Homo sapiens: one gene and its partners. The protein of the gene in region 2 interacts with the protein of the main gene of each other region in a biochemical or structural test. Each region holds a gene or a part of one and is shown on either strand. Other genes may lie near its edges.

The links. Proteins that work in one complex are often made in the same cells at the same time.
Region 1: the proteins of HTT (region 2) and SP1 form a complex in vitro, tested with the Homo sapiens proteins (2 studies listed by BioGRID).
Region 3: the proteins of HTT (region 2) and HAP1 form a complex in vitro, tested with the Homo sapiens proteins (4 studies listed by BioGRID).

The regions. Positions count from the first base shown.
Region 1 is NC_000012.12:53,375,306-53,383,185, forward strand, and holds the start of SP1 (transcription factor Sp1), read left to right. Parts: upstream 1-4,870; 5' UTR 4,871-4,986; coding exon 4,987-4,993; intron 4,994-5,338; exon of another isoform or gene 5,339-5,379; intron 5,380-6,353; coding exon 6,354-6,508; intron 6,509-6,804; coding exon 6,805-7,880. UniProt on the Homo sapiens protein: Transcription factor that can activate or repress transcription in response to physiological and pathological stimuli.
Region 2 is NC_000004.12:3,203,669-3,210,687, forward strand, and holds part of HTT (huntingtin), read left to right. Parts: intron 1-338; coding exon 339-480; intron 481-2,827; coding exon 2,828-3,007; intron 3,008-3,138; coding exon 3,139-3,315; intron 3,316-3,612; coding exon 3,613-3,689; intron 3,690-5,104; coding exon 5,105-5,243; intron 5,244-6,158; coding exon 6,159-6,281; intron 6,282-7,019.
Region 3 is NC_000017.11:41,731,634-41,739,139, reverse strand, and holds the start of HAP1 (huntingtin-associated protein 1), read left to right. Parts: upstream 1-4,496; 5' UTR 4,497-4,505; coding exon 4,506-4,974; intron 4,975-6,341; coding exon 6,342-6,421; coding exon of another isoform or gene 6,422-6,445; intron 6,446-6,745; coding exon 6,746-6,910; intron 6,911-7,021; coding exon 7,022-7,203; intron 7,204-7,396; coding exon 7,397-7,502; intron 7,503-7,506. UniProt on the Homo sapiens protein: Originally identified as neuronal protein that specifically associates with HTT/huntingtin and the binding is enhanced by an expanded polyglutamine repeat within HTT possibly affecting HAP1 interaction properties.

The DNA of each region.
Region 1 (7,880 bases), on a different chromosome or scaffold from region 2:
GATCACAAGGTCAAGAGATCAAGACCATCCTGGCCAACATGGTGAAAACCTGTCTCTACTAAAAATACCAAAATTAGCTGGGTGTGGTGGCGTGCGCCTGTAGTCCCAGCTACTTGGGAGGCTGAGGCAGGAGAATCGCTTGAGCCCAGGAGGCGGAGGTTGCAGTGAGCCAAGATCACGCCACTGCACTCCAGCCTGGCAACAGAGCGAGACCCTGTACCCCCAACAAAAAAAAATGGTTGGGCCCGGTGGCTCATGCCTGTAATCCCAGCACTTTGGGAGGCCGAGGTGGGCGGATCACGAGGTCAAGAAATCGAGACCATCCTGGCTAACATGGTGAAACCCCGTCTCTACTAAAAATACAAAAAATTAGCCAGGCGTGGTGATGGGTGCCTGTAGTCCCAGCTACTCAGTAGGCTGAAGCAGGAGAATAGCGTGAACCCGGGAGGCAGAGCTTGCAGTGAGCCGAGATCGCGCCACTGCACTCCAGTGTGGGCCATAGAGCGAGACTCTGTATAGAAAAAAAAAAGATACGAATTTTAAGCAGGGCATGGTGGCTCGTGCTTGTAATCCCAGCACTTTGGGATTGAGCTCAGGAGTTCAACACCAACTGGGCCACATAATGAGATCTCAACAAAACATCAAAAAGTTAACCAGGTAGCCAGGTGCAGTGCCTCACACCTGTAATCGCAGCACTTTGGGAGGCTGAGGCGGGCAGATCAACTCAGGTCAGGAGTTCAAGATCAGCCTGGCTAACATGGTGAAACCCTGTCTCTACTAAAAATACAAAAATTAGCCAGGCATGGTGGCACATGTCTGTAGTCCCAGCTACAAGGGACGCTGAGGCAGAAAGAATTGCTTCAATCTGAAAGGCAGAGGTTGCAGTGAGCCAAAGTCGCGCCACTGCACTCCAGCCTGGGAAACAGGGCAAGACTCCGTCTCAGGAAAAAAAAAAATTGCCGGGCGCAGTGGCTCACACCTGTAATCCCAGCACTTTGGGAGGCCGAGGTGGGCAGAGGATCACCTGAGGTCAGGAGTTTGAGATCAGCCTGGCCAACATGATGAAATCTCATCTCTACTAAGATACAAAAATTAGCCAGGCATAGTGGCGTGCACCTGTAATCCTAGCTACTTGGGAGGCTGAGGCAGGAGAATCACTTGAACCTGGGCGGCAGAGGTTGCAGTGAGCTGAGATCGCACCACTGCACTCCAGGCTTGGAGACAGAGTGAGACTCTCAAAAAAAAAAAAGAAAAGATAGACACTGCGTGTGTGCATGTAAGGGATCTGAATAGCCTTGATATAAGTTGGTTTTTTTGTTTTTGTTTTTTTTTTTCAGTCTAAAGAACACTTTTTCAGGTTTTTACAGAGCAATTGGACAAGATGGATCATGTCATTCATTTGCTCTCAGGGACTATCAATAAACTAGTATACGTCTAGGGCATTCCTCACTGGCCTCATGCTGAATTGTCTTCTTCTGGAGGAGCAAAGGGGAAAGGATTGTAAAAAGGATGATGGCTATTGAATTTCTGAATTTAGGTCTTTTTGTCAGTTTAATTTTATCCTAATTCCCAATTCGGGTGTAGTCTAGGACTATGGAAAAAACACAGGCTTTGGAACTAAACAGAACAGTCATAATTTAACTAAAATATCTGAGCCTCAGTTTTCTCATCTGTAAAAGGGGACAACTATCTCTTAAATTGGTAGGAATAATTAAATTAGATAAATATGTGAAATGTTTAGAATACTCCTCCACGGTGTTAAGTTTCCTCTCCCTACCTCCACCCCTAAGCAAGTTTAGGTATGGACAGTTGCTGAATGGACTAAACAGCTATTAGAATCTTCAGAGCTTGGTTTACAAAGATGAGTAATGCAGTTTCTTCCTTCCAGGAAATTTCTCCCTTTCTGGAAGTTTCTTTTCCCCAGTTTCTTCTCTTGGTGTTTTTGTTTTGTTTTGTTTTCTTTTCTTTTCTTTGAGACCAAATCTTGCTCTGTCGCCCAGGCTGGAGTGCAGTGGCATGATCCCCGGTCACTGCAACCTCCGCCTCTAGGTTCAAGCGATTTTCCTGCTTCAGCCTTCCGAGTAGCTGGGACTATAGGCATGCACCACCACGCCCGACTAATTTTTGTATTTTTAGTAGAGATGGGGTTTCACCATGTTGGTCAGGCTGGTCTCGAACTCCTGACCTCCAGTGATCTGCCCGCCTCTGCCTGCCAAAATGCTGGGATTACAGGCATGAGCCACTGCGCCCAGCCTTCTTGGTGTGTTTTAAACTAGGTTTAGGGCCTAATCACTTGAAAGAGCTACTTAAAAATAGGTTTAGGGTGGAAATCTAGGAATCTGCCTTTTTTGAAAAAAGAACCCAGAGGATTCTGAGAGTGTGTGACATTTCATTTTGAGAAACCTTGATACAGTGAGAGATGAAATTAATTGTCATGTATTCTGATAAATTTTATAATAAAGGTATCTAAGAGGATGATGCCATTTGATCCGTCCTGGGAGTAGGCTTTTTTTTTTTTTTTTCAGGAGCTAGACAGTAAAAATTAAAAAGCATCTATATATTTACTTTTTTTTTTTTCTTTGAGATGGAGTTTCACTGTCGTTGCCCAGGCCCGAGTGCAATGGCACGATCTTGGCTCACTACAACTTCTGCCTCCTGGATTCAAGCGATTCTCCTGCCTCAGCCTCCCAAGTGGCTGGGATTACAGACATGTCCCACCATGCCTGGCTAGTTTTATATTTTTAGTAGAGACGGGGTTTCTCCATGTTGGTCAAGCTGGTCTTGAACTCCTGACCTCAGGTGATCCGCCTGCCTCGGCCTCCCAAAATGCTGGGATTACAGGCATGAGCCACCGCGCCCAGTCTATATATTTACTTATTTTGGAGCAAGGTCTTGCTTTGTTGTCCTGGCTGGAGTGCAGTGGCAGGATTTGAGCTCACTGCAGCCTCAACCTCCTGGGTTCAAGCGATTCTTCCACCCCAGCCTCCCGAGTAGCTGGGACTACTGGCGCACATCACCACGTCTGGCTAATTTTTGTTATTTTTTGTGGAGACGGGGTTTCACCATGTTGCCCAGGCTGGTCTTTAACTCCTGGGCTCAAGCGATCCGCCCGCCTCGGCCTCCCATAGTGCTGGGATTACAGGTCTGAGCCATTGCGCCCGGCGGCAGTTTAATTCCCTCAAGAATTTATAGAAAACTTTTGGTGGAACTATTCTGGGTTGGAATCTAACACTACAACTCATTTGCTTTGTGACCTTGGGTAAGTCACTTCTCAGCCTAAATGTCTTCACTTATAAAATACATAATATAGCTGATACTTAATAAAATCTTCCTTTTAAGGATGACATGGAATACTAACTGCCTCCCTGACTTAGGCACCTAACACGGTAGGCAGTCAGCAATCACTTCACCTTTTTACCTGTTTAAAGCAGCAGAGGCCTCAGTTCTTACCTTCAAAGGGCTTAAAATAGTTTAGGAGAATTCACATTTTAAAACATAAGAACATATAAGCAGGTGACAACATATAAGATACAAATACTGAAGGACATGACCTCATCGTGTCATTGACAAGCTATTAAGGCCGGCTCCACCAAAACACGGATAAAGAGGAGGCCAGAAATCCAGGTGCCTGCAGTAAAGTTTCTTAACCTTCGTGATTGCAAAAAGCTGGAGCTCAGCTATCTTGCTTTATGCATAGGCGGTATTTACTATTAAGGGGGAAAAAATGGAAGTGACTTATCCGCACTTTAGCCTCAAGGCTTGAAAAGTTAACCAGTCGTTTAAGTGGTTAGCGCCTTTGTCTGGGGGAACTTAATAAAATCGCGTTTTCTGGAGTCTCACGGAGACTCTGCATATTGGTCAGCTCAGTATTAACTTATTCGGTGAGTGCTGTCACCAGATCTCGTCCCGCCTGCATTCCCAGGGCTTGCAGCGACATTGAGGCATCTGCCCGCCTGTCCGACCACCCGGGAGGGGGGTAAGATTTGAGAGGTACTTTATAGGGGCAGTTAAATGAAGACGCAAACAAGTCCTAGTGTTGATGCGGAACTGCGCGCCGAATGCCTTGGCTCTGACACCTGTTGAGCTGCAGGACTCCGCTAAAGCGTCCCACCTAATGACTGTAACAACGTCCCCTGAGGAGGGCCAATATGGCGACGGTCTCCTCTTGGCATAGCCCTCTTCCCTCCCTCATGATGGGCAGCTCCAGTAACGCCCATTGGCTAACTAGGAGGCGGTGCCAGGCCTACTTCGTCCCCTCATTGGATTGAATAACTGAGGGAGCCGCCAATTCTCCTCTGCCACTCCAAGTTTCCGCCCTCAGTTAATTCGGCGTTTAATTGGCTTTTAGTTCACGTCAATATGCGTCCTTTCCTGTCTCTTTTCAGTCTAACTCCAATCATAACGTTCCTGGCTGCCCGCCTGATTTCTGATTGGTTTTAATCAGCTTCATCCTCTCCTATTCCTGCCTACTTCTTACCTCTCCGCCCACTAGGATTTTGCCCAAGCATATCCCGGATTCTGGTTGGCCGTTGTTCTGTCATTCCTATCAAAGCTTTGCCTATCCCTACGTCTCAGGGAGCCCGCCTGCCGGTTGACTGGTTTCCTTCCAAGCCAATCATCTCCAGCTCCCGCCCATCTTCACTTCCTGCATCCTTCATTGGCTTTTAACACTGAGAGGGCGGTCTTTTTAGGCGGACACCAGGCACGCAACTTAGTCTCACACGCCTTGGAGAGCAAGCGAGTCTTGCCATTGGATAATTCCACCGTCTTTCTTCTGCAAGTCCCTCCTTTCCCCCTCCCTCATTGGGCGGGGCAGCAGAGAAGGGGCGGGGCCTAGGTTGGGCTTGTGGCGCGCTGCTCCCTCCTCCTTACCCCCCCCTCCCTGTCCGGTCCGGGTTCGCTTGCCTCGTCAGCGTCCGCGTTTTTCCCGGCCCCCCCCAACCCCCCCGGACAGGACCCCCTTGAGCTTGTCCCTCAGCTGCCACCATGAGCGGTAAGGATGAGTCCACTCCAAGCTTAGGGGTGGGAGGCGAGTGAGGGGGCGCGCGCGAGGGCCGACCGGGCGATCCCCGCCGTGAAGCGGGGGCGGGCGGGAGGCGGCGGCGGCGGCGGCCTAGGTCCCGCCCGGGGCGGAGGGAAGGGAGGGAGACGGGGCAGTGGCGGGGCCTCCGAGGAGGAGGGGGATGGGCCGCCCGCCCCGGGGGAGGGGGCAGCGTGGCCTCGCCCGCCCCCTGCCCGCCCCGGCCACGGGGGACGGGCCTTACCCCCCACTACTCGGCCGCCCGCCTGAGGCTCCTCCCGCCGGGGGCTGGAGCCGCGGGGGCGGCCCGAGCAGCGAAGGCCCCGCCCGGGCCAACCGCCTGCCTGGTCCGCCCTCTGGTCGCCGCCTGCTCCAAGGCCCTCCTCCCCCCACTTTCCGTAGATTTCCCTTCCCCCCCGCCCCCCACCGTCCCGCCCTTTCCACGCCCCTCACCCCGAAACCGCCCTTTCCCTCAGGGCCCGCCCTCCGCCCCGAAACCTTCTGACTACTAACCTGTAGATCCCTTTAGTTCCTTAGCAGTATTCACAAATGTTTTTCTACTCACACTTTTTACTTCTTTTTCCCCTCTCGTTACTTTTCACACTTGGATTTTTGTTTGTCTTTTTTTTTTTTTTTTTTTTTGAGACGGAGTTTTCGCTCTTGTTACCCAGACTGGAATGCAATGGTGCGATCTCGGCTCACTGCAACCTCTGCCTCCCGGATTCAGGCGATTCTCCTGCCTCAGCCTCCGGGAGTAGCTGGAATTACAGGCATGCGCCACCACACCCGGCTAATTTTGTATTTTTAGTAGAGACAGGGTTTCTCCATGTTGGTCAGGCTGGTCTCAAAACTCCCGACCCCAGGTGATCTGCCTGCCTCCGCCTCCCAAAGTAATGGGATTACAGGCGTGACCACCGCGCCTGGCCTCTCCATCTCTTTTAAACTTAATTTTAGCAAGCTTTCCATGCACCCACATGTTGTTTTATGCCTTACCTGTCCTTTTCCTTTTTTTCCCTTAGGATACTTTTTCTTATTTAGAAACTCTCACCATGCCTACCGTCCTTCACATTTCCTATCCCCAAAGCACTTTTTGAATGTTTTCTTAGTTTAATTTTGTACAAGGGAGAATTAAGGCCCACTTTTGGCACATTGAACCTAGTTCATGTCCTGCATGCCCTGCAGCTCCCCTCTGCCCTCCAATCCATTTTCTTTATACTGGTGGCTTTCGCCTTCCTGTTAGTCATTGCTATTTCATCATAGCCTCCTTTTATCCTTCCTACTTCATTTCTTTTCTTCCCTCAAGTTTACGTTGTTTGTTTTTTAATTATTTTAGACCAAGATCACTCCATGGATGAAATGACAGCTGTGGTGAAAATTGAAAAAGGAGTTGGTGGCAATAATGGGGGCAATGGTAATGGTGGTGGTGCCTTTTCACAGGCTCGAAGTAGCAGCACAGGCAGTAGCAGCAGCACTGGAGGAGGAGGGCAGGTAAGTGATAATCATAGAGTGGGGAAGGTGTTGAGAAGATGTAAATATTCTTAGATAATTGCCTTACTCTTCACAGAAAGCGTTTTAGGGAGAGACTAAACCATTTTATAGATAAGGAAGTAAGAGAATGGAGATCCCCAAAGACAAAGGAGTTTCAGCAATACAGATAGGTCAGCTTTTTGTTTCTGTTTTTTGCTCCTTGTCTGCACTACGTTGCTGTTTATTTGTTGTATACTGCCCCCTAGGCTGGCAGCTGGGTGTCACTAACTCCTTTCCTCTCCCTTATTTTCGGCCAGGAGTCCCAGCCATCCCCTTTGGCTCTGCTGGCAGCAACTTGCAGCAGAATTGAGTCACCCAATGAGAACAGCAACAACTCCCAGGGCCCGAGTCAGTCAGGGGGAACAGGTGAGCTTGACCTCACAGCCACACAACTTTCACAGGGTGCCAATGGCTGGCAGATCATCTCTTCCTCCTCTGGGGCTACCCCTACCTCAAAGGAACAGAGTGGCAGCAGTACCAATGGCAGCAATGGCAGTGAGTCTTCCAAGAATCGCACAGTCTCTGGTGGGCAGTATGTTGTGGCTGCCGCTCCCAACTTACAGAACCAGCAAGTTCTGACAGGACTACCTGGAGTGATGCCTAATATTCAGTATCAAGTAATCCCACAGTTCCAGACCGTTGATGGGCAACAGCTGCAGTTTGCTGCCACTGGGGCCCAAGTGCAGCAGGATGGTTCTGGTCAAATACAGATCATACCAGGTGCAAACCAACAGATTATCACAAATCGAGGAAGTGGAGGCAACATCATTGCTGCTATGCCAAACCTACTCCAGCAGGCTGTCCCCCTCCAAGGCCTGGCTAATAATGTACTCTCAGGACAGACTCAGTATGTGACCAATGTACCAGTGGCCCTGAATGGGAACATCACCTTGCTACCTGTCAACAGCGTTTCTGCAGCTACCTTGACTCCCAGCTCTCAGGCAGTCACGATCAGCAGCTCTGGGTCCCAGGAGAGTGGCTCACAGCCTGTCACCTCAGGGACTACCATCAGTTCTGCCAGCTTGGTATCATCACAAGCCAGTTCCAGCTCCTTTTTCACCAATGCCAATAGCTACTCAACTACTACTACCACCAGCAACATGGGAATTATGAACTTTACTACCAGTGGATCATCAGGGACCAACTCTCAAGGCCAGACACCCCAGAGGGTCAGTGGGCTACAGGGGTCTGATGCTCTGAACATCCAGCAAAACCAGACATCTGGAGGCTCATTGCAAGCAGGCCAGCAAAAAGAAGGAGAGCAAAACCAGCAGACACAGCAGCAACAAATTCTTATCCAGCCTCAGCTAGTTCAAGGGGGACAGGCCCTCCA
Region 2 (7,019 bases):
CAAAAGCAATTGCTCAATTATCAAACATAGCCAGTGTGAGTTCTGAAATAAAGGTGCTGATTGAATGTGCAGCTTTATGGTGGATTTTGCTATTCAGGCAAGCATTTTAATTTTCTGCCTGTTAAATTCTGTTTTCTTTAGTTTTTCATATGTGGTTTATTGTAGCTTAGGAATAGATAACTGAGAGTATATATTACACATACAACATTCTGATATGGCAATATTTAAAACAACTTGTCTGTTTTAGAACTAGAATTAAACATAATCATCTTCAGTATTTTGCAAATAAGCTCACTGCCATCCAGAAACATTGTCAATGCATCTGTTGCTCCTTCTAGAAGACACAGTCTGTCCAGCACAAAGTTACTTAGTCCCCAGATGTCTGGAGAAGAGGAGGATTCTGACTTGGCAGCCAAACTTGGAATGTGCAATAGAGAAATAGTACGAAGAGGGGCTCTCATTCTCTTCTGTGATTATGTCGTAAGTTTGAAATGCCTGTAAACGGGGTTGAGGGAGGTGGGGACCAGGAGAACATCCTGTGTAGATGACACTTGCATGGACCCTCTGGAACCCAGACCGCCCGGTGTCCTGCCAAGCTCCATCGAAACTAAATCTAGAATGAATGTTTACTTCTGCTGTGACATATAATTGGAGACCAGGCCTGGCCTTCCAGTCACTGGATTCTAAGTTGGACTGTGAGAGTTTTTGCAGCTGACTCATTTATCAAATGCCCGGCTATTGGCTCACGCCTACATGATGCTGGGTATGTTTGTTAATTTGAGGGAAGCAATGGAATAATAATAACTAATGATTTAAAAAACAAAGTAAGTGCATTGACTGTAGTGGGGTTCTGATTTTAAATTTTTTTAAAAATTAATACCAGGAGCAGTGGCTTATGCCTAAATTCCAGCAACTCGAGAGGCTGAGGTAGGAAGATCACTTGAGCCCAGGAGTTTGAGACAAGCCTGGGCTATGGTGTGAGACACCCATCTCTAAAAAAATAAAAAATAAAAAATTATCCAAGTGTGGTGGCTCGTGCCTGTAATCACAGCTCTTTGAGAAGCTGAGGGCGGAGGATGGCTTGAGCCTGGGAGTTCGAGACCAGCCTGGCAACACAGAGAAACCCTGCCTCTACCAAAAAAAGAAAGAGAGGAAGAAAGAAAAATTAGCCTGGCGTGGTGGTGCATGCCTGTGGTCCCAGCCACCTGAGAGACTGAGAAGGGAGGATTGCTTGAGCCCAGAAGTTTGAGGCTGCAGTGAGCTGTGACTGTGTCACTGCACTCCGGCCTGGGTGACAAGGCGAGACCCCTGCTCTAAAATAATTTTTTTAAGTTAATTTGTAGAAAAGGTGTTAGATGTTCTTTGTCACATTTTATGATGGATTCCTGTTTAAATGCCGTTCTCTTTAAAGAAAAAAAAATAACTTGTGGGAGTTTTTAACCATAAAACTAGCATCACATATTTACCATGGAGAATTTACAAAAAAACAAATAAACGGAGGAAAATAAAACCTCCTGTAATCATACTACTCAGAGATAACTTGCTGTTAGATTTTGGTCTAGATTTAATACTTTTTCTATATTTATATTAAAAATATTTAAAACATATGCATTTCTTTGTCACAAACATGGTATCTTATAGATACTACTGTCACATAGCAAAACAGTGTTAAATATTCTGAATCAGAAAAGGAAGCCGACTCTCCAACTGAAAGAGGTGTTATCCTAGAGACTTTTTCTGGTGATGACAATTTATTAATAGTCACTTTTTGCTTTACTTTCTCTATTGAAGTAGTTTTTCTATTTTGTTCTACTTTTAAGGATAATATAATTTATAATGCTGTTTTTCACAGAAATATAAGAAAAAAGATACTAATTTTATAAGTTAATAAAGTTTGATCATCCCAAATCCAAAAATCTGAAATCCAAAATGCTCCAAATTCTGAAGCTTTTTGAGTGCTGACATTATGTTCAAAGGAAATGTTCATTGGAAGGTTTCAGATTTTCGGATTTAGGGAGCTCAACAAATAAGTATAATGCACATATTTCAAAACCTGAAAAAAATCCTAAATTCAGAATACTTCTGATCCCAAACATTTCAGATAAGGGTTATTCAACCTGTACTGTCAGATGATCCCAAATGAAAAATATTAATCGTTAACCAAATATCAAGGAATTGATCACATTTTACAGTTTCTGCCTAGGATTATGAATCAAGATGAAAAGGCTCTGCATGTTTAAAAATATATATTTTTATTTTCTTATAAATCTTAAATATCTACACTTAAGATTTATTTGATATGTGGGATCCATTCATATTTTGGATTCAACAGTTCTGTCAAAACTGTGGCAGTGATAGGGGATTCTTTTTTTCCCACTGAACTATCACAAAATTGGAAAAAGAGTAATTGGAGAACCCCACTGGCTTAGCCGGCCCGAAGCCCGGGAGAGGGCAGGCAGTGCTGTGGATGGGGTCATCCCAGCGCAACGCTGCCCCTGCTACCTGCGGATCTCGCTGAGGCCTGCCTTTGTCCTTTGACCCTTGGCCATTTGTTAGTGTCTCTGAGAGCTGGACTGCTGTACCCTACTTCCCCAGGGGGCCTAACTTCACACAGCCTCTGCCGCAGTGCGTGGTTGGAGGTGACGGCCTTGGTAAATCGAGTTTCCTACCTCCTCAATTATTTGTGCTCATACACTGTATATTTTTAGTGAGGTTTATATTTGGGATGTGTTTTCTCCTTCTTACCCTTTCTGGCCTTTCTATGGCATTAATACCTGGTCTCTTCTTGTGTACTTGAAAATGAATCTCTCATCATATTTTTCCTTAGTGTCAGAACCTCCATGACTCCGAGCACTTAACGTGGCTCATTGTAAATCACATTCAAGATCTGATCAGCCTTTCCCACGAGCCTCCAGTACAGGACTTCATCAGTGCCGTTCATCGGAACTCTGCTGCCAGCGGCCTGTTCATCCAGGCAATTCAGTCTCGTTGTGAAAACCTTTCAACTGTACGTCTTCATCCTGCCGACTATTGCCAGTTGCAGTTTTCCCTGCCTTAAAAATGGAGTATTGAAATTTTTAACTTTAATTTCTGATTTGCAAAATAGTCATCTTTTGTTCTTTTCCTTCTTGCTGTTAGCCAACCATGCTGAAGAAAACTCTTCAGTGCTTGGAGGGGATCCATCTCAGCCAGTCGGGAGCTGTGCTCACGCTGTATGTGGACAGGCTTCTGTGCACCCCTTTCCGTGTGCTGGCTCGCATGGTCGACATCCTTGCTTGTCGCCGGGTAGAAATGCTTCTGGCTGCAAATTTACAGGTATTGGGAAGAGAAACCCTGATATTGATTTATATTGAAAATTTAGCAGGCCAAGCAAAACAGGTGGCTGGCTTTTTCCTCCGTAAGTATGGTCTTGACATGGTCACCGATAGAAACATGGAAACATCTGCAAACTTGCCGTTACTCGTGTGTCCGATCTGACTGTTTCTTGTATTTTTTTCTAGTCTGCCCTTACTAGGATGAACTGTACACATCAGTTCATCCTTTTTAAATGAGCATGAGGTTATTTTGGGTTGTTAGGTGTTACAAACACACTAATGTGTTTTTGTCTATTAGAGCAGCATGGCCCAGTTGCCAATGGAAGAACTCAACAGAATCCAGGAATACCTTCAGAGCAGCGGGCTCGCTCAGAGGTAATGCTGGAAACACAGGTCGTCCTTGTGTTAGGACAACCCAGGATATAAAGGATATAGATTTGTACGGGAATAAATTCACAGGACAAGAAATCGATGTGCCTTATAGGTGGGTTTACTGCAGAAGTGCCATAATAGAACCTTCCTACTTTTAAAACAACCAGATCTCACTTTCTAAAGAGTAAAGGATGACCGGCAGGATCACGTCTGTGACGTGAGTGGAGGCAGTTTGCACTCCTGGTGGCTGTTTGAGAGGTAGCATTTAGAATGCCTGTATTCACTGTCCTGTGATGAGTGGGAAAATAGGTTATCAGGTTTATCTTAGCAAAATCAAAGCATGTCATCTAATTGCTAAACAAGAGTTGGCAAATCTGAGAGACATTACTCAATCCTTGGCATGCAGGACTTACATCTGCATCCTGTTGCCATTTTATGTCTTCAAAGCATTTAATCATTTAGTTGTGTTTGCAAAGTCTTTGAGAAGCCTTTGTCAGAAATCCCTACATCTCCTATGTGAGTGTATTTCCATGACTGCAGAATAAGTTAAACTTTTACCTTTTTCCTTCCCTTGCGGGGCGGGGTGGGGGGCAGGGATTGTGTGTGTGAGAGGGAGAGAGAGACAGCAGAGAAGGAGAATATAATTATCATGCTGTGTACTTTGAGCTGAAACTGCAAAAAAGGAAAAACACACAAAAATTATTATGCTTTTCAGTCTTTAGAGTACCTTGTCTATTATGCTTTTCAGTCTTTAGAGTACCTTGTTGATGGTGTTTTTAAATGGGATTGGGCACAATTAGGTGGACAGTTTGGGATGATTTTTCAGTCTGTAGGGCCAAGCTCTTTTGTAATTTGCATTATGAAGTTGTCACTCTCATAGCAGATGGCGGGAGATAAACTATTATTACTTTTTGACCCTAGACTTAGTCTTCAGTCCAGATGAGGGAGATTAAAAGATTATAAATATCTTGTGCCAGATGAGGTGATTTTATTTTGAAATGACCATGAATTCCTATCAGTTGTCTTACTGGGATATTTGATAGTGGAATTTGTGCATTTGAGTCTTAGATGATCTGTTTTACATTTATTAAGAAAGCCTTTATTAGCTTTTATACTGTGTATTGCCTGTTGCAGTGTTTGAGTATAAATGAAATTTCTGGAAAATATTAATGGAGTACAAACTGTGATACTTAAAAGTAAACTAGGGCCTGCATTTGTATCATGACCTGTTTGAGTATTGATGAGAAGATAGCTGTGAAGAAAAAGGTTTAAACAAGTGTATTTTCCTTTAAGAAGCCACTAATAGTGCATCTCCTTAGAGTGTATATTTCTAGAATCCTAGTGTGCAGAGTTTAGACTAAGACTAAAAAAAAAAAAAAACAAATTATACTGTAATTTCATTTTTATTTGTATTTTAGACACCAAAGGCTCTATTCCCTGCTGGACAGGTTTCGTCTCTCCACCATGCAAGACTCACTTAGTCCCTCTCCTCCAGTCTCTTCCCACCCGCTGGACGGGGATGGGCACGTGTCACTGGAAACAGTGAGTCCGGACAAAGTAAGTGTCCAGCGTGTCTGCATGGGAGGCACAGGGCGCTGAGTGCCTCTGTCACCTGTGGCAGATACAGAGAGTGCAGAGGAGGTGCCGTGGACCCAAGGAGTTCTGGCGCTCGGCTCGGCTCAGTGAAGCTGTGGTTAGAGACGTGGGGGGCCATCAAGGTCTGAGGGAGCCAAGCAGTGCTGATGTGGGACCCTTTTGGTAGGAGTGTGGGGTGAGTAGTTAGTGGGTGAATCAAGGAATAGTCGGCCGTGGCCTGCAGGCCCCTGACTGCACAGGCCTTCAAGCACATGTCAATGCCGTTAGCCTCCCTCCATCTCCTCATACCTTCTGGCCACCTGTGAGTTGCACTGCCACTGCCAGCCATTCTGGTATGTTGTCAGCACCTCCACTGCTCATACCTCATGGTTAGGGACCACCTGGAGCCTTGGTAGAGCCTTGGTAGAGCCTTGGTACTCTACTTTCCTGGACAAAGTTCAGCTTATGAATATGAATTTAGATTTCAAAAACCAGCAGCCCAAGTATAAGAAAGCGAAGGTTCAGTCCTGCCTTCTTAGGCTCTATTCGCTAAGCACCTGCCCTGCCCTGGTTGCTGGGGAGAGATGAGTAAAGCAGACAACCCAGGAGAGGATGGCAAAGGGGCCGCTAACCCTTAGTGGTTTAGCTATATTTGGAAGGCCTATTGGAAGTTCACCAGGTGAAGGGGGAGGCTGTGAGGGTGCCCAGGCAGGTAACAGAAGTCCAAAGGGGAAAACCTGTGGTGTGGTGAGCCGTATAGCCACAGCCTGCCGGCCGGCAGCCCTCTCAGCCTAGTGCGGTGTTCCCAAGCACTGGCCTAGGCCTGTAGCTCCAGGGATGTGAAGTCCCCTTGAACGCCGCCCATCATGTTCCCCTTATCCATTTTTTTCTTCCCAGGACTGGTACGTTCATCTTGTCAAATCCCAGTGTTGGACCAGGTCAGATTCTGCACTGCTGGAAGGTGCAGAGCTGGTGAATCGGATTCCTGCTGAAGATATGAATGCCTTCATGATGAACTCGGTACGGGGGGAGCAGTGGAGGCAAGGAATCCTCAGCTTTTCTTGTGACTTCCAAGTGGGATTTGTCTCATCATCATGTGACCCACTTGTTGACAACACATGTTGGGGACTCCAGTCTGGGCAGGGACGGGATGTCGGAGAGACTCCACTCTGAATGGGGCCGGGAAGTGGGGAGGACTCCATTTCAGATGGGGTCGGGACATGGGGGTTATGCTGATCGAGACAGAAAAGCACATTGTTTCAGCCACATTAGAATCCACGGAGGTGTTGTTTTGAAATCCAGCTGGCCCCAAGGCTGGGTGTATGGTTTGGGATGAGAACTATCTGGCCTCCACTGGAGGAACAAACACAGGATGTTATCATCTAAGCTCCATGGCCAAGACAGAATGGAAGTCAAGGTTGCGTATTTGCCGTAGACTTCAACACAGTGTCGTAATGCGTGACGTCAATAACTTGTTTCTAGTGTCTTGGAAGTTGATCTTTAGTCGTAAAAGAGACCCTTGGATGCAGCGAGATTTCCTCTACTCACACCTCTGTTAGATGTAGTGAGGTTCTTCACCCCCCAACCCCAGATGTCAGAGGGCACCCTGCGCAGAGCTAGGAGGCCATGCAAAGCCTTGGTGTCCCTGTCCCTCACCCGTGGGCAGGTCCTGTGAGCAGTGGGGGGGCCACCTCTTGGGTATGGTGCAGCCATGGCCCAAGCAGGGCTTCTTCTCAGACCTACTAGGACGGGAGAAAC
Region 3 (7,506 bases), on a different chromosome or scaffold from region 2:
AGGAGGCGGAGGCTGCAGTGAGCTGAGATCATGCCACTGATCTCCAGCCTGGGCGACAGAGTGAGACTCCCTCTCAAAAAAACAAAAAGAAAAGTTAAAGGGGAACCTCTGAGGGCCTAGGCCCTCAAGTCCCCCATTCTCTGCTGATGTAAGGAGGGACTGTACCTGGGTTCTGGGGTGGGGGTGAGGGCTATGGCGGCCACTGCCTGGTTCTGGAGGGGAAGGCCTGGATCAGAGATGGGGGAGGGCCCCCGAAAGGCCTGCAGGAGACAGCAGGACTGCGGCGGGGGTGAGGAGGTCTCCCCTGTTCCTAGTTCAGGGTGCCCCTCCACCCTGCTCCCCTGCAGAAAGTAACCCCGGTGCCTGTCCCCCCCAGGTCCCTGGCACCGACCCTTAGGGGCTCTTTCTATTACCTACCCTGTTCCAGGTGTTTTTTTTCCCAGGGTCAGGCCAGGGGAGGGGGCAGGAGGAGGGGCCTGAGCCACCTGTGTGCTGCCCAGGGCTGGGCACTGGAGTGAATGTGCCCCAGGTTCAGGGGGTGTGCACAATTAGGTGGTGGGTGGTCTGGCTTTGCAGCCTGGCAAGTCTTCTGCACCCTCCCATCCTCTTTCGGATCCAGGAGGGTCCATGGATGCACACTGGGAGGGAGGACAGGAGGCCAAGGGTCTTTGCTGTGTCTGATTTCTCCCCCTAGATGAGAAGCAGGAGAGGGAGGGGGTGGTTGACAGAGGAAAACCACTTGAGAGGCCTGGATCAGAGACTACCCCCAGTCTCCTGGACAGCCCTAGGCTGTCGAAAGGCAGATATCTGTCAGCCAGGCCAAAATGCTTACTTCCAGAATGACGGGCCCTGAGCCCTGGTTTCTCCATTTGTAAAATGGAGTCTCTGTCCCTACTCCACTTTCTGTGGGGCGACTGAGCCTGTAGGTGAGGAAGCCACGTGGGGAGGTATACGGGCTGACACTGCCCTCTGGTGGCCGTAGCCAGAGTTGCTGGCTGCCAGTGCGCTGACCTAGAGGGTGTGGTCAGCTGGGGGAGCTTTCAGGGTCTCCTAACTTCATCTCTGTCTTCTCCATCCCACTGCCTCTGCCTTCTTCCCCGTCAAACTCTCCAGGGGTTTCCCAGGGCTTCTTCCTCATGGGGCCAGAAACAATTTAATTCAGCAGGAGTGTAATAGGCTTCTTCTGTATGCCCTGTTCTGTGCTTGGTGGTTGGGGCTGCAGAGATGTCCAAGGCACAGAGAGACAGTCCAGGAAGCTGGGCTGTGGGAGGACCACTCGGCAGAGCCTATGGAGCTGTAGCCTCACGGAAGCCTGGGCTGTGCCGATGCCCGAACAGCCACCTCCTTATGTTCTTCAACCTCACTGTCGTAGCAAACCCTGGGGTTGTGTGTCTCCTTCAAGCTTTCTGCTGACAAAGAAACCATAGGAAACATGCAGACTTTGGGCTGGGCACAGTGGCTCACGCCTGTAATCCCAGCACTTTGGGAGACCAAGGGGGAGGCGGATCACGTGAGGTCGGGAGTTCGAGACCAGCCTAACCAACATGGAGAAACCCCGTCTCTACTAAAAAGACAAAAGTAGCCGGATGTGGTGACGCATGTTATTGGGGAGGCTGAGGCAGAGGCAGGAGAATTGCTTGAACACGGGAGGTGGAGGATGTGGTGAGCCGAGATCGTGCCATTGCACTCCAGCCTGGGGCAACAAGAGCGAAACTCCGTCTCAAAAAAAGAAAAAAAAAAGAAAGAAAGAAAGAAAGAAAATAAAACATGCAGACTTTGAACAAGGAGGAGAACGGTTATGTTATGAAAGTTCCTCCATTTCCAGAAGTATTCTGGGAGATAAGCTCTCTTTTCTGCACCTGTTTTCTCCTCCCTGAGGGAACATTTCCATCAGCATGTAAACATATTGTCCTCTCTCCCATCTTCAAAACACACTCCCCAGCACTCATGTCCTCCTTCAGCTCCTGTGCCCTTTTCCAGCTCTCCTTTGTTGCAGATTTCTTCAATACAGTTTTCTATACTGTCTCCCTTCCTTCCTTCCTTCCTTCCTTCCTTCCTTCCTTCCTTCCTTCCTCCCTCCCTCCCTCCCTCCCGCCTTCCTTCCTTCCTTCCGACAGGGTCTTGCTCTGTCACCCAGGCTGGAGTGCAGCCTCGACCTGTGCTCAGGTGATCCTCCCACCTCAGCCCCTGAAGTAGTACAGGTATGCACCACCATGCCCAGCTATGTTTTTTTTTTTGAGACGGAGTTTCGCTCTTGTTGCCCAGGTTGGAGTGCAATGGCGCAATCTCGGCTCACTGCAACCTCCGCCTCCCGGGTTCAAGCGATTCTCCTGAGTACCTGGGATTACAGGCACCCGTCACCATGCTCAACTAATTTTTTGTATTTTTAGTAGAGACGGGGTTTCACTATGTTGGCCAGGCTGGTATCAAAATCCTGACCTCAGGCGATCCACCCGCCTAGGCTTCCCAAAGTGCTGGGATTACAGGTGTGAGTCACTGCGCCCGGCCAATTCTTGTATTTTTTTGTAGCGAAAGGGTTTTGCCATGTTGCCCAGGTTGGCCTCAAATTCCTGGGCTCAAGCAATTCACCCTCCTAAGCCTCCCAAAGTGCTGGGATTATAGGTGTGAGCCACAGCGCCTAGCCTTCTTTCTGTTTTCATTTTGTTACCTCTCGTTATTTCCTCACTCCTCTTTGGTCTCTCTCACCCCCTCTACCAAGACCGCTCTTTTTTTTTTTTTTTTTTTTTTTGAGACAAGTCTTGCTCTGTTGCCCAGGCTGGAGTGCAGTGGTGCAATCTCGGCTCACTGAAACTTCTGCCTCCTGGGTTCAAGCAATTCCCCTGCCTCAGCCTTCCAAGTAGCTGGGCTTACAGGCTTGTTCCACCACACCGAGCTAATTTTTGTATTTTAGTAGAGATGGGGTTTCACTATGTTGGCTGGGTTGGTCTCAAACTCCTGACCTCAGGTGATCCACCTGCCTTGGCTTCCCAGAGTGCTAGGATTACAGGTGTGAGCCACTGTGCCTGGCCCCGCAAGACCGCTCTTGCCGAGGCCATGACCCCAGCTCACCAAGGTTGCCCATGACCCCAGTTTGCCAAGCTGAGTCTCTGTCCTCAGTCTTTGCCTGGCCCAACAGCACCACCCAACACAGGTGGCCACTCTCTACATGAAACATTTTCTTTACTTTCTAGGACCCAACTTTCCTGGTTTTCCTCTACTTCACTGCCCCACTCATCCCAGTCTTCCTTTGATGCCTCCTCTTCTTCTTTCTGCCCTCTGAATCCTAGGGGGTTAGTCCTGGGCGCTCTTACCTGTCTTCTCTCAGTCTCTTGGGGATCTCACCAGTCTCATAGCTTTAAATGGTCATCAAAGAACAATGACTCCTACATTTAAATCTCCAGCCCGGTCTCTCCCCTACATTCAGATTTATACATCTAATTGTCTACCCAACATTTCCAGTAGGATACTTAAAAAAAAAGTATTCTATTTATTTATTTATTTTGAGGGGTAGGCTCGCTCTGTAGCCCCAGCTGGAGTGCATTGGCACAATTTCGGTTCACTGCAACCTCTACCTTCCAGGTTCAAGCAATTCTCCTGCCTCAGCCTCTTGAGTAGCTGGGACTACAGGCACACGCCACCATGCTTGGCTAATTTTTGTATTTTTAGTAGAGACAGGGTTTCACCAGGTGGCCAGGCTTGTCTGGAACTCCTGACCTCAGGTGATTCGCCTGCCCCGGCCTCCCAAAGTGCTGGGATTACAGGCGTGAGCCACTGCGCCCGGCTACAGGGAGACTTTTAAGAGGCGTCTCCCAAGGAGAACAGGGGTTCGCCAGCATGGCAAGAGGAGGGCAAAGCGAACTAGGGTTGGAGGTGAAGAACAGTTAATCCAATCAAATGGAAGACGTCGAGTGGCGCGAGCACTGGGGTGTGAGCGCGAGGGTCAGGGTTGCAGCGCCAGGCAGGGTTGCAGCGCCAGGCAGGGTTGCAGCGCCAGGCAGGGTTGCAGCGCCAGGCAGGGTTGCAGCACGTTGGAAGCGCACTGGAGTTTGGAATGTCTCTCCCAGTCAACCGGGAAAGACGCAGCGCTGCCCTAATGCACTGGCCACCCCAGACCGTATGCACAACGTTGGGTTGGCAGCTTCTACACCAGGGAAGGCACCCGAAACCCCGGCGCGGCAGCTGGGGAGGGGCTGCCCCCAGCCAGGGACCCGCGAGTGCTGGGGCAGCCGCGGCTTTGGGCAGAACCATTCTCCGGAGATGGAGAGGGCAGAAAAAATCTTTCGCTCCCATCCCAACTCGGAGCCATCCGGAACTTGCACTCGCCCTTCTTGCCCTGCTTTTCTTACTGTGCTCTGTTCCGTCACCACTAGCTCCCCTCCCGCGCGGCTCTGAGTCCCGCTTGCCACTAGTTGCTTCTCGGCAGCCCCCACCCCTACGCGTGGTCCGGCCCGGCGGCTGGCGCAGGTTATAAAGGTCCCGCCGCAGCAGCGGACGGCAGACTCGAGATGCGCCCGAAGAGGTTGGGCCGGTGCTGCGCGGGGAGCCGGCTCGGACCCGGGGACCCAGCAGCACTCACCTGTGCACCTTCGCCCTCAGCCAGTCCCGCTCCGGAGCCCTCTGCGCAGCCGCAGGCACGGGGCACTGGACAGAGAGTAGGATCCCGAGCCACCTCTGGATCCCAGTTCCTCTCGGAAGCCCGCACCGGAGCTCGCCCGGCCTCGGAGGCTGGAGCCAAGGCAGGAGCCCGGCGCCCGTCCGCATTCTCGGCCATCCAAGGGGATGTCCGGTCTATGCCCGACAATTCGGACGCGCCGTGGACCCGCTTCGTATTCCAAGGGCCGTTTGGTTCCCGGGCCACTGGCCGGGGGACTGGAAAGGCAGCGGGCATCTGGAAGACGCCAGCCGCCTACGTTGGCCGGCGACCCGGGGTGTCCGGCCCTGAGCGCGCCGCCTTTATTCGGGAGCTGGAGGAAGGTAAATCGGGCCCCCGGGGTCCTGGACCGGGTGGGGACTGGGGCAACTCCAGGGAGGAAGTGGCCCCATCGGGTCCAGGCACCCCGCCCCCTCTAGCACTCAGTGTCACCCGTCCACCACCCCCGCGATGTCACTGCGGTGTCTGTCTGGTCGCCCCTTCTCCATCTCCTCCTCTGCTCTTGTCCCCTGGTTTGTGCCCGTGAGTCAGGTTCTGGGGCCTGCACGCTCGCCCACCCACCTCCACGCGCCTCTTGCTGCGGCAGATCTGCACCCCTTCAGCGCCCCTCTCCTGGGTCTACCGCAGTGCCAGGAGAGGGGCGGGGGGCTGCGGGAGGGCGCTGTCCCGCGCGCTCTGAGTCTGCGCTGGCCGACCGGGCTTGCGTGCGATGGAGGGGTGGGTGGGCGGGCGGAGGGGGAAGTTTTGCCCACTTTTTGGTTGCGGGTATGGGGGCAAAGTCGCGCTCTTTTCCTGCCCCTTGTCTCTCCTATCCTCCTGCGGGTCGGGGGAGATCTCTGGATTGGGCCTAGAGGCTCGAGTGTCTCCTAATCTGGTGAAGTCTTCCTCCTGTCCTCTGCACACGCAACAGGTGCAGGGTGAGTGGCTGCGTCTGTTTGTATGACCCAGGAGACTCCATTGCACTGCCTCCTGGGTAGGGGGTGATGAGCCAGTCTGAGGCTGTACTTCCCCTGGCTGTCTCCATTCTAGGCGCCAGGGACCCAGGTGTCCGGAGAGCCCAGTTTCTGAGCCTGGAGGACTGTGACCCCCTTACCTCAGGCTCCTCCAGGGGTAAAAAAAAAAAAAAAAAAAAAAAAGCCGGGCGCGGTGGCTGACGCCTGTAATCCCAGCCAGCACTTTGGCAGGCCGAGGCGGGCGGATCACTAGGTCAGGAGTTCGAGACCAGCCTGGCCAACATGGTGAAACCCCGTCTCTACTAAAAATACAAAAATAAGCTGGGCGTGGTGGCGGGCGTGTATAACCCCAGCTACTCGGGAGGTTGAGGCAGGAGAATTGCTTGAATCTGGGAGGCAGACGTTGCAGTGAGCTGAGATCTCGCCATCGCACTCCAGCCTGGAGGACAAGAGCAAGGCTTTGTCTAAAAAAAAAAAAAAACCAAAAAAAAAAAAAACCAAAAAAAACCCAAAAACCTAAAAACCCTGTCCACTTGGCCCTGGGAGCAGGGAAGGGAGTGTTGAGTGCCGAGGGGTAAGGGGAGGATGTGGGGGGCAGGAGGGGAGCCCAGTCTTCTCTCCCGATGACCCTTGTTGGAGAACTGACGATAGGACGGGAAACAGCTGTTTGCTGGTAGCATCTGCTCCTTTTTCCTGACCTGGCTGGGCCTTTTCTCCCCACCTGCCGCCTCCTGCAGCACTGTGTCCTAACCTACCTCCGCCAGTCAAAAAGATCACCCAGGAAGACGTCAAAGTGATGTTATATTTGCTGGAGGAGGTGTGTACTGCCTTCCTGATCCAGGCAAGCCCTTATTCTAGTTTTGTCCTGTAGGGGTGGGGGTCTTGTTTATTTCCTGATTGGCAGTCTCTCTGGGGCCCCAGGTTAGGGTCCTTCTTATGGAAGACAGGTCGATGTGGGATGTTCAGGCTGGAAGAGCTCTCAGAGCCAATCTGGTCTGATCTTCTTTTTCCATGAGGGGAAACTGAGCCAGGTTCCACAGTGGGTTAATGGCAGACTCTGGTCTGGTACCCTAGAGAACTAGGGGATGGGGAAGGTTCTCTTAGGGGCCTAGCCTCTCTCTGACCCCTGTGTCCCCCCCAGCTTCTCCCACCTGTCTGGGAGAGCGTTACCTATGGGATGGTCCTGCAGAGAGAGAGGGACCTGAACACTGCAGCTCGCATCGGCCAGTCCCTGGTGAAACAGAACAGTGTTTTGATGGAGGAGAACAGCAAGCTGGAAGCCCTGCTGGGCTCAGCCAAGGAGGAGGTAACCGGGTGGGGAGGAGAGGATAGCGGGCCAATCTACACCTGCCTCATGCCAGGACCCTCTCCTGTCCCTGCCCACTCCCAACCCATGGCTCCTCTCTCTTCCTGCCAGATTTTATACCTCAGACACCAGGTGAACTTGCGGGATGAGCTCCTCCAGCTCTACTCAGATTCTGATGAGGAGGATGAGGATGAAGAAGAGGAGGAGGAAGAAAAGGAGGCAGAAGAGGAACAGGAAGAAGAAGAAGCAGAGGAAGACCTGCAGTGTGCTCATCCCTGTGATGCCCCTAAGCTGTGAGTTCCTGCCTTTGCACCTGCAAGTCCTTTCTCTGAGCCTCAATTTCCTCATTTGTTAAGAGGGACACAGGTGATGTGCTTGCTGGCAGGGTTGCTGGAACTAATTGAGAACACTGCCCTTAGCCCTGGTGGGCTGGGAACTGGGAAGCCCCACTCCCTGCACCCTGACTCCCATTCCTCCCTCCCCTAGGATTTCGCAGGAGGCATTGCTGCACCAGCACCACTGCCCACAGCTGGAAGCCTTGCAGGAGAAGCTGAGGCTGCTGGAGGAGGAGAATCATCAGCTGAGAGAAGAGGTGA